Linked DNA regions of Homo sapiens: region 1 is linked to region 2. The links come from fine-mapping of genetic effects on gene expression. A gene starts in region 2. The other region holds a variant in brackets. All regions are shown on one strand. Distances are from middle to middle. Region 1 has its middle 27 kb from the start of SARAF. Region 2 holds the start of SARAF (store-operated calcium entry associated regulatory factor).

Region 1 (8,691 bases), 26 kb after region 2:
GCCAGAACTGCCTCAGTGTACTGTGGAGGAAGGGATTCAAAGGCTCAGGGAGATTGGAATGTTAGGGTGGATTTATCATATAAGCCCCACCCACCCACCCTGGAGGAGTCAAGAGAATACACTTTTCACCATGATGGTGAGAAATAGATTTTTGAGAAGGAGGCCCACAAATTTGGTTTCTCTTCTTTGTAGGTCAGAATGTACAGTGGGAACTGCTACCATCAAACTGGGACCCCTAGAGGCAGTGGGGTTAATTTGATCCCAGGGTAGCAGGGGCCAAATGGTGACAATCAGCAAAGATAGCGTGGCATGGTTATGCTGTAATGGGCAGCAGAGTCAAAGCAGCCATCAGAATTGTTGGACTCAGGCCAGGAACACTGGCACATGACTGTAATCCCAGAACTTTGGGAGGCAGAGGCAGGAGGATTGCTTGAGGCCAGGAGTTTGAGACCAGCCTGGGCAATATAGTGAGACTCTATCTCTACAAAAAATTTTATGAAACAAAAATTAACAAGAATTGTCTGACTCAGAGACCTATGGCATTGGCTGGTTGATCATTGTGTACCTATGGAAGAAATAGATGGCAGTCTACTAAATTCTTATTTGATTTATGTATGTGGAAGAGTTCTAGGCTGAGTAAACGGAAGTCTTTTTTTTTTTTTTTTTTTTTTTTTTGAGACCAAGTCTCACTCTGTCACCCAGGCTGGAGAGAGCAGGGGCATGATCTCGGCTCACTGCAACCTCTGCCTCCCAGGTTCAAGCAATTCTCCTGCCTCACCCTCCCGAGTAGCTGGGATTACAGGCGCCTGCCACCATGCCTGGCTAATTTTTGTATTTTTAGTAGAGACAGGGTTTCACCAAGTTGGCCAGGCTGGTCTCAAACTCCTGACCTCAGGTGATCCGCCCGCCTCGGCCTCCCAAAGTGCTGGGATTATAGGTGTGAGCCACTGTGCCCAGCCAACAGAAGTCTATCTTAAGTCACCACAAGTGAGTCATAGCCTCTGAATCATTTCCTAGACTTGAGCTGGTTTATAGCTCCAGAATCCCTTCAATGAAGGAGAGGCTGGGTTCCCCTTGAGGAAGAACCCTACCACATTGCCAGGTTTATATTGTTTATCTTTCCCCCAGTCTTCCCTCAATGGACCCGTGGCTATTTACTGGGGTAACTATGCCCTGGGGAAAGGGAAAATAATCAGATAGTTTAGGGATTACTGGACACTGAATTGATGCTAATTCCAGGAGGCTCAAAACATTACTGTGGTCCACCAGTCAGAGTAAGAGCTTATAGAGTTTTAGCTCAGATCAATTTCACAGTGAGTCCCATGGGTCCCTCGAATGATCCTGTGATTATTACACAGGAATGGAACCTGCGTTCTAGAATGCAGGATTAGAATAGACATACTCAGCAACTAGCAGAATCTCTACGTTGGGTCCCTGACCTGTGGAATGAAGGCTGTTATGGTGGCATAGGCCAAGTGAAAGTCACTAGAACTACCTCTATCTACAAAAATGATAAACCAATAGTGGCTGTGATATGGACACTTGATTAAAGGGGCTGAGAGGACTTGTGGGGAATCCCAATTGGAAGAACATCCAAGTTAGAGATGAAGGCGACTAGGGAGAGTTGGAGTGAGGAAATGGGGTGAAATGGAGGGACACAGAAAGTGCCTGAGCTCTGTGCCTCAGAATGTGATCTTATTTGGAAATAGAGTCTATGTTAGTCCATTTGTGTTGCTATAAAGGAATACCGGAGACCAAGTAATTTATAAAGAGGTTTAATTGGCTCACAGTTGTGCAGGCTGTACAGGAAGCATGGTGCCGGCATCTGCTCCTGGTGATGCCTTGGGAAGCTTCCCATCATGGTGGAAGGTGCAGGGAACAGGTGCGTCACATGGTGAGAGTGGGAGCAAGAGAGAGCGAGGGAGGGAGGTCCCAGATTGATTGACTGATTTTTTTTGAGACAGAGTCTTGCTCTGTCACCCAGGCTGGACTGCAGTGGTGTGATCTTGGCTCACTGCCTCACCTCACCTCTGCATCGTGGGTTCAAGTGATTCTCCTGCATCAGCCTCCTGAGTACCTGGGATTACAGGTGTGTGCCACCACACGTGGCTAATTTTTGTATTTTTTTTTAATAGAGGCAGGGTTTTACCATGTTGGCTGAACTCCTGGCCTCAAGTGACCCTCCTGCCTTGGCCTCCCAAAGTGCTGGGATTACAGGTGTGAGCTACCGCACCTGGCCAGGTCCCAGACTTTTAAACAACCAGATATTGTGTGAACTAACTGAGCAAGAACTCATTCATCACGAGGGGGATGGTGCTAAACCATTCATGAGGGAATCCTCCTGTATGCTCCCAACACCTCCCACCAGGCCCCACCTGCAACATTGGGAATCACATTCAATGTGGGATTTGGAGGGGACAAACATCCAAACCATAACAGGGTTACTGCAGATGAAATTACGATGAGGTTATACTGGAGTAGAGTGAACACCAATGATTCATGTCATTATAAAATGAGGAAATTTGGACACAGACACACAAACAGAAATAATCATGTAATGTCTGGAGTTCTGCCAAAAGCCAATATATGCCAAAGATTACCAGCAAACCACCAGAAGCTGAGAGTCAGGCCTGGAACAGATCCTTCCTCAGCACATACAGAGGGAGCATGGCCCTGCTACCACCTGGATATCAGACTCACAGCCTCTAGAACCGTGAGATAGTAAGTTCTGCCTTTCTGGAGGGATTACAGAGATTAATGCCACCATCAAGGACTTGAAGGATATAGGGCTGGTGCTTCCTACCACATCCCCATTCAACTCGCCTATTTGGCCTGTGCCGAAAACGGATAGAGAGTAATAATAGGTTGTCATAAACTTACCCAGATGGTGACTTCAATTGCAACTGCTGTTCCAGATGTAGTTTCATCACTTGGGTACATGAACATATCTGGTAGTTGAAACACAAGTGCTCTGGCAAATGCTTTTCCTCCATACCTGTTAGTACACACCATCAGAAGCAGCTTGCTTTCAGCTGGCAGGGCCAGCAATACACCTTCACTTTTCAGTCCTATGTCATAATTTAGTCTGCAAGGACCTTGGTTACCTTTCCCTTCCACAAGACTTCACACTGGTCCATGACATTTATTATATTAAGCTGATTGGATCTGATGAGCAAGAAGAGCAACTACCAAGAAGTAGCAACTACTGTAGATGTATTGGTAAGGCATTTGTATGTTAGAGGGTGGGAAACAAATCTGACAAAGATTCAGGGGCTTTCTACCTCAGGGAAATTTCTAGGAGTCCAGTAGTATGGGACATGTTGAAATATCTTTCTAAGGCCAAGGATAAATCGTTACATCTGGCTCCAGATGAAAAAAATGATGCAATACCTAGTGGATCTTGCGGGCAACATATTCCTTATGTGGTATGCAACTCTAGTCCATTTACTGACTGATCGCAAAGCTGCTAGTTTTAACAGGAGCCTAGAACAAAAGAAGGCTCTGTGATAGGTCCAGGTTATTGGGCAAGCTCAAGAGTCATTTTAATATTCATTTTTTTTTCTTTTTTCAGAATAGTCTTGCTCTGTTGCCCAGGCTTTAGTGCAGTGGTGTGATCTTGGCTCACTGCAAACTCTGCCTCCTGGGTTCAAGTGATTCACCTGCCTCAGTCTCCAGGGTAGCTAGGATTACAGGTGCCCATCACCATGCCTGGCTAATTTTTGTATTTTTAGTAGAGACGGGGTTTCACCATGTTGGCCAGGCTGGTCATGAACGCCTGAATTCAAGTGATCCGCCCGTCTTGGCCTCCCAAAGTGCTGGGATTACAGGCATGAGCCACCGCGCCTGGCCAGCAACCTAATTTTCCCTTGATAATTAGGATGAATTACCTGTTAGAGTGGCCCCTTACTTTGTCCATTTGTTCAGTAGCATGAGGAGCCCAAACTGTCCAAGGACAGTCTCAGGTTTCCAATTCATCGTGACAGTGTTTCCTGGTGGAAGCATTCCTTCCTTGTGCACTGGAACTTCCAAATCCACTATATCAGCACCACTTGTACACCTTCTCAGAGGCTCTTAACTGCCTTCTCCTTTCACGTGGTTGGTGTCACACCCACACCAGGTCACCCCTCCACTTTGAGATTTGAATAAGACGACACATTGCAAGGTGTGGAATATGGTTTCCTGTGTGGCTGCCGGGAGCCCAGATGGTGCAACTCAGTTGTTTAGGGAATTAGCTCAATGGAATGAGCAATGACCAATGGGAAATAAATTCCTATCTTTTCAGGGATTACTGCAAGATGTGTTTTCTTTTTGCAACTCTTCTGGAGAAGTCCTTTGTGCAGAGTGAACCTGCCTGCAAAGCGACCTACTGTGTGTCTGTAGCTCATTGTGAAGCAGTGCCGCAATCCATTGCATGCCATTGCATCACATCTTTATTTGTCTCACTTTTTTCCCTCACCCTGTGTCTTTGGACATGCTTCTGTCCAAGTGCCAGAAATGTTTTTCTTTTTTTTTGCTTGAGTTCTGCTTTCTAGAGGACTTGTGTTAAGACA[A/G]TTGGTGTGAAAGTTGTACAGGATGGAATTTTGGAATTGGACTGTTCAAGGAATCAGAAGAACTTGAACATCGACATCTTCCTAAGTCTTTCTTTCTGGCATAGCAGCCCCTTCCTTCTTGCTGAAGGGGATTAGCCTTCCTTGTCTAGAGACCATGTAACGGCCTCACCTGAAGCAGATGCCTTGTAAGATAGCATTTTTTCTTAAAACTGAGTCCTGCCACATCTCTGCCTCCAGGCCAATAACTAGAGTCAGATCTCAACCTTAACAGGGAAAGACAGTCCCTGCTTTGGGAGGAAATAAGCCACACAGCAAAAGAATGATAACCTCTTGGAATTATAGCACTTGCCTTGGGAGGAAATAGGTCACATACTAAAAAAATCATGGTACCATACAGCTAATATGTACCAGCGAGAGTAGGGATAAACCATGTGGAAATTCATCTGGAAGTTGGGCTGTGGGAGGGGTGAAATATGGTGGAAAGAGAAGTCCTTTATGTTCACCTGTGAATTGGGATTCAATGTTCTGTCAAAGACATGAGCTACTGGTTCTAATAATTTTCTGGGATGGTTTCTTGATGGATGATGATGGTTTCCTGATTGGATGTGATGATGCCTACCGTAAGTGAGGTAGAGATGCCAGACTTTCTATGGTATAGTATTGAGCACAGTATCTGAAGACTCAAGGAAGTGGGATGTTAGAATTTACTTATGAGACTGAATAATCCAACATTTGACTCTACTCTGAGGGTTCAGAGCATCTCCCTTTACCAAGGTAGTAAGGAAGGTACTGGTGAGAGAGTTATTAGCATTTTTAAGGGCTCAATGATAGTTGTCCTCTGTAGGCAAAGGTTAATAGTGGGAAATGCTGTCATGAAAATGGACTTCCCAAGATTAACAGAGATAGTGGGTTTCCGAAGTGGCAAATTGCATCTCTTCATTGTCAGAGCCAACCAAGGTGGATGGAATTCCATACAGGACAGCAAGTCAAGAGTAGCCTGATTTACAAATGGATCTGCATGATATGCTGATACCACCTGGAAGGACAGTGAAGGGAAGTGCCCTGAGGGGGTGGAATTTTGAGCTATGCATCTGAAATAAGAGATGGCAAGACATATGTATCTACACTTTTCAAAATAGACAGTGGTTTCTGGTTTGAATGGGTGACCAGGGGCTTGGAAAAATGAGACTGAAAAATTGACGATAAAGCTGGGCAAGCTGGCTCATGCCTGTAATCCCAGCACTTTGGGAGGCCGAGGTGGGCGAATCATCTGAGGTCAGGCATTAGAGACTAGCCTGGCCAACATGGTAAAACCCCATCTCTACTAAAAATACAAAAATTAGGCTGGGCGCAGTGGCTCACGCCTGTAATCCCAGCACTTTGGGAGGCTGAGGCAGGCAAATCACAAAGTCAGGAGATCGAGACCGTCCTGGCTAACACAGTGAAACCCTGTCTCTATTAAAAATACAAAAAATTAGCCAGGCGTGGTGGCACACACCTGTAGTCCCAGCTACTCGAGAGGCTGAGGCAGAAGAATCACTTGAACCCAGGAGGCAGAGGTTGCAGTGAGATGAGATCGTGCCACTGCACTCCAGCCTGGGTGACAGAACGAGACTCTGTCTCCAAAAAAAAAAAAAAAAAGAAAGAAAAATTGATAAGGATATCTGGGGGAAATGTAGATGTATGGTCCTCTCTTAACAAAGATGAGATTTTTTTTTTTTGTCCAATATACATGCTTACAACTACCTGAGTAGTAGAATATCACAGAAATTCTGGCATCTCCACCTTGCTTACTATAGGCATCATCACATCCAAGCAGGAAGCCATCATCCCTCAGGAAACCATCCACTCAGAGTATTAGGATCAGTAAGTAGTTCATGTCCCCGACAGAACGTTGCATCTTAAGTCACTTCATAAGATGACATTTTCTGTGGCTATTATTCAGCCTCTTTTTTTCAGCAAGCCCTACTCCTGTTTCATTGGCTCATAAACAAAGTGGCTAAGGTGGTAGGGATGAAAGTTATCCATCGATTCAGCAAAAGGGTCTTCCATTCACCAAAACCGATCAGGTTACAACCGCTGCTGAGTGCCCTATCTCCCAACGGCAGAGGCCAACACTGAACCCTGAATACGGTTCAATTCCCTGGGGAAATCAGCCCACCATCTGGTGGCATGTTGATTACATGAGACCACTTCTATCATGAAAGGGGCAATGATTTGTTGTCACTGAAGTAGACATTTACTCTGGGTTTGGATTGGCCCTTCCCACTCGAAAGGCTGTTGTTGAAACCATGATATGTAGATTTACAGAATGCCTTATTGTGTATCACAATGTTTCACATTGTTTCTAAGTAAATCATTTTCTAGTGGATGAAGGGCAGGATGGGAATAATGCCCACATAATTTATAGGAGTTCCTGTCTTCCCTGGATCCAGAAATAGTAAATCTTCATGATTTTGCTAGCTCTGTGATGCCTTCGGGAAGATGTCTTTTCATATTTTGCTCAGTTTTGTTAGTTTCCGTGTGTGATAGGATTGGTTCAAATCATCTTGCCCTCACAAACATAAAAGTGGAATTCCCTTACTGTAGATATTTGAAGACAGCTCTATTTTTTATTCAAGTTAAAAATCCAAAACACTCTCAATCATTTCTTACTTTACCTAGCTTTTGGATCCTCCACCATCTGGTCATCTACCTAGGTTTGATCATGTTTTTTTTTGTTGTTGTTGTTTTTTGTTTTTTAAATCCCCAGCACAATCTTTCCTTATTAAAGGAGAAAAGACACATTTCTTCCTTACATTAAAATATTCAAAATTATGAGTATTTATCAAGTTAAATTATATTTAATTAAATTATATAGATAAATCATTCACAACTATATATAAGTTAAAATATGCATATTTCATAATTGAAAAAAGAAAAGCAATGCAAGTTCTTTGTAAAACATTCGAACAGTTTAGAAGGATATAAAGAGAAAAGAAAGAGTCTGTATCTGGCTAGGCATGGTGGCACATGCCTGTAATCTCAGCTACTCAGGGGGCTGAGGTAGGAGGATCACTTGAGCCCAGGAGTCTGAGGCTGCAATGAGCTATGACCGTGTCAGTCACGACAGAGCAAGACCCTGTCTCCAAAAAGAAAAAAGTCTATATCTGCCCAACTCCCCACGGCCCCCTTCGTTTCATCCTCTCAGTGTGGTCTCTCTACCTAGAAATAATTTCTGTTAACATTTTTTGGTTATTATTATAGAAATTATACACAATGTCCAGAATTTTTTCACAAAGAATAAATCTATTCTTTTCACAGCTGCATAGTATTCCATCATATGGATATATTATAATTTAATCTCACCATTCCTTTATCAATATCAATATACATTTACCACATTTTCAATTTTGTTCCCTATTTTCAACAATGCAATAATGAACATCCGAACATATCTTTTGTACATGAGTTTATGTTGTAGCTGCTCCAAACACTGGAGTCAGAGACTTTATTATAGTTTAGATCTTTAATGTACATGTGTTTAGATTTATAAGATATATTTCTAGAATAAGATTTATGCTTAAATGTGGCACCCAGACTGTAATTAAGATATGGATGTCAGAGAAGCTGCCATTTAAACTTGGCCTTTGATCTTCCTGCATGGGAGGATAAAGTGAGTCATTCCAAAGCGGATCTTCTTTGTTCTTTGTGGTTCATAAGTAAAGATAGGGTAAGCAGACATCTATTGCTCTTGGGGAAATGTACAACAAAGCCTTTTAAAAAGGGCTTGATGAAGGCTGCTTTTTAAAATATGCAGAGATGAAAGTTTGCTTAAGCAGAAGTACATTTTCATGGAAACCCAGGTGGCTACTGGAAGAGTATGCAGTATCTCTCACACATCTCTTTTGGACTTCCTCATAAATAGTACCTTTTGGATGGTTAGAGGCAGCTCTTAGGGGAGAGAAGGATGAGTGAAGACCGGGAATTCTGGGTTATTACCCGATTCTACATAGTCTTGGGAAAAAGTGGGTTCTGGGTTAGCTTGTGGCTATGTCTGGAACTGGAATTGTCCTGGATCCACAAGGGCACAATGAGTGTGTTGGGAAGAATGTCTGCATATGTGGTTTTAACCTGGAGAGCTATTACCTGGGAAGTGAGG
Region 2 (8,691 bases):
CTGAATTGGGGCAGTCTTGTGGGAGACTGGGCCCTTAACTTGAATTGAGTTATAGGACATCGTGTTGATGTCCTTTAGAGTTGGTTGGTGTGTAGGGAAATACTCCCCCAGCCCCTCTTCTGGTCACAGAACTGCTCTGTGTTTTGTGCCAGTAGAAAGGAGAAAACAGTTTGTTTTTTCCTTTTACAGCCTCATCATTTAGCTCTCAGCTCAAATGGTAATTTCTCAGAGAATCTTTTCTGGGCCATCCTACTTGTTATGGCACTACCTGTCATATTGCTCTGTTTTCTTCTTCAAGGTACTTATTATTATTTGAGATAGAGTCTTGCTCTGTTGCCCAGGCTGGAGTGCAGTGATGCAGTCATGGCTTGCTGCAGCCTCAACCTCCAGGGCTCAAGTGATCCTCCCACCTCAGCCTCTTGAGTGGCTGGGACTACAGGCACATGCCACCACATCTGGCTATTTTTTTTTTTTTTTTGAGACGGAGTCTCACTCTTTCGCCCAGGCTGGAGTGCAGTGGTGCGATCTTGGCTCACTGCAAGCTCCGCCTCTCGGGTTCACACCATTCTCCTGCCTCAGCCTCCTGAGTAGCTGGGACTTAGGCACCCGCCACCATGCCCAGCTAATTTTTTGTATTTTTAGTAGAGACGGGGTTTCACTGTGTTAGCCAAGATGGTCTCGATCTCCTGACTTCATGATCTGCCTACCTCGGCCTCCCAAAGTGCTGGGATTACAGGCGTGAGCCACTGTGCCTGGCCACATCTGGCTAATTTTTTAAAAACAATTTTTTGTGGAGATGGGGTCTTACTATGTTGCCCAGATTGGCCTCAAACTCCTGGTCTCAAGTGATCCTGAGCCTCGGCTTCCCAGAGTGCTGAGATTACAGGTGTGAGCCACCGTGCCTGGCCCAAAGCACTTATTTATTTGAAATGACATGATTTGTTGGCTACCTCTCCCACTAGAATGTTTATTATAACAACCTTTCATCTTTTGTTCATGACTGTCCAGAACTGTACATGGTACATGGTGGGAATCTAAAATAACAAACATTCTCTTGTTAAGGTAATTAGTGATTTCTACATTGCAAAATTCAGAGACCAAATTTTGCTTCAAGCTTTCAGCAACAGTGGACACTGTTGACCATTCTTTCTTTCTCTCAATTACCATATCCTATTGTCCTAGTTCTTCCTCCTTCTTCACCAGAGGTTACTTCTCAGATTCTTTCTAGAATCTTCTGCTTGAGGTTCAAATGTTAGTGTTTCCATAGCCTGGGCCTCCTTTTTTGTGGTATCTCAATTCTCTCATGTTACTGTGTCTCTTCCCACATGTCTTAGTTCATTTTGTGTTGCTATAACAGAATACCTGAGACTGGGAAATTTATAAAGTATAGAGATTTATTTCTTATGGTTCTGGAGGCTGGGAAATCCTAGGTCCAGGGGCCTGCATCTGGTGGGGAGCTTCCTGCTGTGTCATTTCACGGTGGTAGGCAAAAGAGAAAGGGAGCTGAACTCATCCCTTTTATCGGGAACCCACTCCCCAATAACTAACCCACTCCTGTGATAATAGCATTAAGAGCTCTGCCCTCATAACCTAATCACCCCTTAAGAGTCCCCCCTCTCAACACTATTGCTTTGGGGAATAAGTTTCCAACACATGAGCTTTGGGGGACACATTCAAACAATAGCATCATGACATTAAATGCTATCTTTATATTTACAACATAACTACCAAATTTACCTTAGTTTTGAACTTCAGACTTTTACAGTTTATCTATTTATTTGACACGTCTACCTGGATGCCTAATAGTCACCTCAAACTTAACATGTTGAGCATAGATTCTCTATTATCTCTTATTTCAGTCCTTGGTCCCAGCATTGGTTGGTTCCATGCCGAGGCCCCACTGCTCTGCCATCTCTTATTCCACTCTTCCCCTAACTTACTTTGCTTCAGTTATGGCCTTGTTTGCCTCTTGTCCCCCAAATTTTGTTTTATTCACTGCTGTATCCCCAATACTGATAACAGTGCCTGGCAGGTACTGTTAGGTACTAATAGGTGCTCAATATAATAATCTGGTAAACATAAAGTGTTTTTTTGAGTTCTGTGAGCCATTCTAGCAAATTATGGAACTCAAGATGGGGGGTTATGAAAACCCCAATTTATTTGTTGAGAGGGAGTCTCTCTCCATGGTCCAGGTGCAGTGGGGCAGTCTTGACTCACTGCAACTTTCGCCTCCCAGGTTCAAGCGATTCTCTTGCCTCAGCCTCCCAAATAGCTGGGATTACAGGTGTGCACCACCACGCCCAGCTATTTTTCCTATTTTTAGTAGAGGTGGGGTTTTGCCATGCTGGCCAGGCTGGTCTTAAAGTCCTGACCTCAGGCGATTCACCTGCCTTGGCCTTCCAAAATGCTGGGATTACAGGCATGAGCCACCACGCCCGGCCTGGAAACCCTAATTTATAGCTGGTTGGTCAGAAGCATAGGTCACAACCTGAGACTTGTGATTGATGTCTGAAGTTGGGGCCATCTTGTGGGACTGAACTCTTTATAGGATCTGACCAAATAACTCTTCCTCGAAACACAAAGTTAGGGCTTTTGCATCCACTGTTCCCCAGATGGGAAGATGAGTCCCCTGATCTTTGTACGGCTAGTTCTTTCTCATCATTCAGGTCCCAAGCTTCAAAAACCACTTCCTCAGCAAGGCCCTCCCTGAAGTTGTGTCCCCAGGCTCCATTATATCACCCTGTTTTTCATCAATGTTATTACCTATCATTACCTATTATTTTTGTTGTTTAATTGGTATGTCGTTTGTCCTATTCTATTTCAATGAGTACAGGGATCTTGTCTGTACCATCCATGCCTAAAACAGTGCCTGGTGCGTATTAGGTATTCAACATATATTCATTGAATGAATGAATGAATGAATGAATGAATGAATGAATGAAAGAAACCCAAGCCTGCTAGACCTCAAAAGCCCAGAGAACTGTTTTCTCTGGCTGGTTCTTCATTCAGACGATATTTTCTCCTCTTGACATTTTATAGTCTTCCGGCCTCCATGCGCAAGGAACCATGTAAAGGTTCTGAGCCTTGAAACCAGACAATGTATTTCCCTGTTACTTTTCGCTTGAATCTTCTCTGTATTTAGCAACCAGTCATAGAACACTAACCATGTACCAAGCGCTATGCTAAGTGCTGAACACATAGAGCTGAATAAAGCACAGAACTACCCTTGGTACAATTATTGAGGTTTTAATAATACATAATTTGACTACATTTCTTAGATTTCGCGTCGTGACGTTTTCAGCCTCTCAAACTGCATCGCCTACGCACAGAAGCTTCCCGAATCTCAGACGAGACACAACAAAGCTGCGCGCTGCCCTCGCCCCGCCCGCGGGCGCGGCGGCGACAGGCCCTCGGCCCCGCCCACACCGCGGCGCCACGCCTCCAACCCGCCTCCAGCCGTGCCTCCCCAGGCCCTTGGCCCCGCCCACACCGCCTCGCCCCGCCCCAAGCCGCGCTGTGCTCCAGGGGCGGGGGCCCACGGCGGCCACTCACTGAGCCCCACGGGCCGCAGCGGCAGTGACGTAGGGTTGGCGCACGGATCCGTTGCGGCTGCAGCTCTGCAGTCGGGCCGTTCCTTCGCCGCCGCCAGGGGTAGCGGTGTAGCTGCGCAGCGTCGCGCGCGCTACCGCACCCAGGTTCGGCCCGTAGGCGTCTGGCAGCCCGGCGCCATCTTCATCGAGCGCCATGGCCGCAGCCTGCGGGCCGGGAGCGGCCGGGTACTGCTTGCTCCTCGGCTTGCATTTGTTTCTGCTGACCGCGGGCCCTGCCCTGGGCTGGAACGACCCTGGTGAGTGCTGCCAGGGCCCTCAGGCGCTTCGTTCGCCCTTTTCCGCCGCCGTCAGCCGGTGCAGGCTCCCCTGCGTTTCCGTGCGCCGTCTTCCCGGAGCCTGGGTGCCCGGATTCCCCATGTCTGACCTCTTTGCTGTTCGTGCTCTCCCTGGTTCCACTGCTCTTCCCAGGCGTCTTGGGAGGCGGGTAGGGACTGCTCGAGTGGGCGGGGCGGGACGGCTGGAGATCCTTAAGGTCCCCTTTCTCCCTGCCCCGGACTCCCGGAATTTGCCCATTGTCGTCTTTCTCATCTCTGAGTATAACTGGAGAGCTGGACACTCACCTGCGCATCTGCTTTGTTGTTATGGCTGTGTGATGTCATCGTGGCCTGCTGTTGTCATGGCTGCCTGTTGCTATCGCCGGCCGTTGCCTGCCACTGGCAGTCTCTGAGTCACCCTTAGCGGACAGGGCTGCAGACCTCGCAGGTCTGTTAGCAGAATCGCAGATTGCACTCTTTTTTTTTTTTTTGAGTCGGAGTCTCACATTGTCGCCCCGGCCGCACTGCAATGACGTGATCTCGGCTCACTGCAACCTCCGCCTCCTGGGTTCAAGAGATTCTCCTGCCTCGGCCTCACCGGTAGCTGAGATTACGGGTGCCCACCACCATGCCTGGCTATTTTTTTGTATTTTTAGTAGAGACGGGGTTTTACTATGTTGGCCAGGCTGGTCTCGACCTCCTGACCTCGTGATCCACCCGCCTTCATCCTCCCAAAGTGCTGGGATTACAGGCGTGAGCCACCGCGTCTTTATGAGAACCGCTGCCTCTTATCTGACGATTGCAGTGATGTACATCGCGCGGCACCAGCTCTTCCCATTGGCTTTCACCGTAGAGAAGAATTTAAAAAATAATTTTCTCGGTTTTTTTTAGTGATGGTACATGATAAGTGGGTTTTAGGAAAGAGGTTCTTTTATGTCAGTACAGTATTAAAATTGTCTAAAGAATTTTCATGGGATCAGTAATATTCCGTGCAATTAATACGTATATGTCTATATACTTAGATACAGATTTTGACTTTTTCCATGTAATAAATGACGCATGCTGTTACTTTGGAATTCTGTAAAAAAAAAAAAAAATGAAAACAACATCATTTTTGCTTTGCGAAGTAAAGATGGCATGGAAAGCATATTGCCTTTGTGATTTGGTGATTGGAAATGCCTGCATTGTCGAATTTAAGCAACAGGTTTATTTCTATAATAGCCTATTCTTACATGCTGAAATGAGAGAGAAGGTGCTATTTGCAAGCACATCACGTTGAGTAGTCATTTGATGTGGACATTTTATTACCAAAAATAAAAAGCCAAGTTGTATTTAAATGTCTGTACGTTTTTCTTTTGTATTTCTAGAAAGCTGTGTATGAGTGGGAGACTTGATCAGAATTACAAGTGAAAACCTAGAATGAAACTTTAATTTGTTGAACTTTGAATCAGTTCGTAAATAAATTTAATAAAGGAAGTTTACAGTTGAAGAGCCAGAAGAACTATAAAAACTATGAAAGAAGAACCAAATTTAAATTAAAGATGAACCACTTCCTGGTTTATCTACGCTGTAAAACTATTGTTCTGGAACACAAAGCACCACAATATTTTGCAGAGTAAACTCAATTGTTTTATGTAAATTCTACTTCAAAGTTTACTTTGAGGAACTTTTTTGTTTTGTTTTGTTTTTTTGAGACAGTTTCACTCTTGTCGCCCAGGCTAGAGTGCAATGGCGCGATCTTGGCTCACCGCAACCTCTGCCTCCTGGGTTCAAGCGATTTTCCTGCCTCAGCCTCCCGAGTAGCTGGGATTACAGGCATGTGCCACCATGCCCGGCAAATTTTGTATTTTTAGTAGAGACAGGGTTTCTCCATGTTGGTCAGGCTGGTCTTGAACTCCCAACCTCAGGTGATCCGCCCGCCTTGGCCTCCCAAAGTGCTGGGATTACAGGCGTGAGCCACCGCACCCGGCACTTTGAGGAACTTTTTAAATGAAGATACTTTATTGACATACTATTTATTAAGTCCTTTACTAAAGCATTAATCGGCTCCCTAATTTATCTTTTGTTTGACTTGGATGCCATTACTTTAGCTCACATTGAGCAGTAATTTGTCTGGAAAAAAAAATTAGCACCATTCTAAAGAGATTACCAATGAATTTTCAAAATTCCTTATTGAATGTAATCTTATATTAAGTTACTCTTCCGGGTGTTGGGAATATAGCAGTGAACAAAACAGTGTCTTGCCTCCAAGGACTTTACCTCTATTGGGGAGAAATAGACAATAAACAGATAAACATGTAAATAACATGCTATATTGTGAAAATTGGTATGCACCGTGTATGATAAACAGCGTAAGGAGGACATGGTGTGCGGGCAGAAGTGGAGACTTAAAAAACGTACATTGGTCAGGGAAGTCACTGTTAGGGTGACATTTGACTGGAAACCTGAAGTGGGGAGGAGGAGTAAATGACCTGAAATTACTTATATCTTTAAAGGCTCATTTGGGCTGCTCTGTGGAAAACAGACCGAAGAGGGTAGGAGGGAAGCAGGGAAACCAGTGAATTAATATATATTGCTATCTATTTTAATATTGTACAGTAAGTTCTTAGAGTGGTGACCGCTTGGCCCAGGGCAGGAGCAGTAGAGAGCTGGTTAGAGTAGCTGGATTCTCTTGTCACCTGTTTGGAAGGTGGAGCTAACATGATCTTCTGAAGGATCAGATGTAGGAGTGAGAGGAGAGAAGATGAGAAGTCCAAGGTTTTTGGCTTGAGCAACTAGAAGCATGGAGTTAACCATTTCCTGAGATGTGGAAGAATGTGGGATGATCAGGTTTAGGGGAGTTTGGTTTTGTTTATCTTGTTTGAGACCTGCCGTGATTTTGATTTATGAGTCTGGAGTTCAGGGAGCTCCTGTGTCCCTTGACTGATCTAACTAGTGGGGCGTGGGTATTAGAATTTTGTTCTTGGACCTTAAGAATCTCTAGGGAAGAAAGATGCTATAGGATTATGGTAATGCTATTCCATCTTAAAACTTTCAGTAATATTTATCATACCTGATCACCTGTTATGCTTCAAGTACTCAGCCAGATAATAAATTATATCTAAGCTTCACAACAAATTTCAAGGTTGATAATATTTTAATTTTGTAGGTGAGGAAACTTCTACACAGGTAAATTAAATGCCTTGGCCAAAGTCACAGCCAGTTAGTGACACCAACTTAGTTCAGTGTTCTTTGCATTATTGCAACTCTGTTACAATAAATTCAATTTATTATTTCTGTTATTTAGTTGATTAATACAGTCTGATTTTTCTAAACCATTGAACATTTTCATTGTCTTATTTTTTATGTATGAGGAGGTAGTAGTTTGTGTTTAATGTAGCATGGTTTATTTGAATATAGTTCTTGGAAATTTTAGATCTGTAGCCCATGTGGAATTAAATTTTTATATAGCTTTAGGTGGATTTTCTTGTGGCTGCATAGTCAATTATGCCAGTGCTATTTATTAAAGAAGACATCTTTTATCCACTAAATTAAAAAGACCACTTCATCTTACTGAATTCCCAAATGTATCTTGATTTATTTCTGATCTTTCTTTTGTTTCACAATTTCCTTGTCTCTGTTCCAATTCCCTACTATTTTGATTATAATCTTTTTTTTTTTTTTTTTTTTTGAGATGGAGTTTCACTCTTGTCGCCCAGGCTGGAGTGCAGTGGTAGCAATATCAGCTCACTGCAACCTCCACCTCCTGGATTCAAGTGATTCTCCTGCCTCAGCCTCCCAAGTAGCTGGGACTACGGGCGTATGCCACCACGTCCAGCTAATTTTTGTATTATTAGTAGAGATGGGGTTTCACCATGTTGTCCAGGCTGATCTCGAACTCCTGACCTTAGGTGATCTGCCCTCCTTGGCCTCCCAAAGTGCTGGGGTTACAGACGTGAGCCACCGTGCCTGGCTGATGATAATAATTTTATAGTAACCTTTACTATCTGGTAACCTATGTGTTCTTTTTCAAAAAAAAATTGTCCACAGGACCTTTAACATAATTTCTTTCCCCAAAAAACCCTATTGGGTTCCTGGTTGGAAGTATATTTAGGTCTCTCTCTCTATATATATTTTTTATATAGATAGGGTATTGACCTTAAGTTTATTAGATTGATTAGATTCATATTAAATACTTGTGGGAAATACATCATAGGAGATGTTGTAACATCAGTTTGTTCCACCATTAGCAAAGCGATGGTTGGCAAACCCAGCCAGACTTTTTCCTTTAGAGTTTTTGAATATATTTCTCCATTTTCTTTTTCTATCCTGTTGAGATACCTGAAGCTTTTCTAAGTCTTATCTTTTCTATATGGCTTGTTTTCTCCCTATTCTTCTGGCAATTTGTAGAATCTTTTTTTGTCTTCAGTGTTCTAAAATTTACTTTTCGTGTGCCTTTGTGTGGTCTGTTTCTCAGGCCTGGGTATTTGTTGGGCCCTTTCAGTATGACAACTCAAGTCCTTCAGTGTGGGAACTTTTCTTGAATTACAGCCTGGAGTTTGTCTAATCAGATTCCCTTGTTCATTCTTTCAGAAGCCCTTGTTGGATTTTTGGACTTTCTGAACTGGTCCTGAACTGGTAATTTTCTTTCTTTCTTTTTTTTTTTTTTCCTCCTACTGTCTTTTTTCTTTCTTTCTTTTTTTTTTTTTTGAGACGGAGTCTAGCTCTGTCCCCCAGGCTGGAGTGCAGTGGCACCATCTCGGCTCGCTGCAACCTCTGCTTCCCGGGTTCAAGCGATTCTCCTGTCTCATCTTCCTGAGTAGCTGGGATTACAGGTGCCCGCCACC

What was found.
Region 1: its variant is fine-mapped to the expression of SARAF in whole blood (TOPMed, PIP above 0.99).

The regions. Positions count from the first base shown.
Region 1 is chr8:30,052,214-30,060,904 of GRCh38, reverse strand. No RefSeq gene overlaps it. Among named protein-coding and RNA genes, the nearest start is that of SARAF, 27 kb to the left of the region's middle. RefSeq lists an enhancer at 2,766-3,965. The variant A/G (reference allele first, on the strand shown) is at 4,551.
Region 2 is chr8:30,078,003-30,086,693 of GRCh38, reverse strand. It overlaps SARAF (store-operated calcium entry associated regulatory factor), which reads left to right and starts at 3,630. Exons shown (of 6, transcript NM_016127.6): 1 at 3,630-3,847. The coding sequence starts at 3,745. RefSeq lists a silencer at 3,307-3,676 and an enhancer at 3,717-4,066.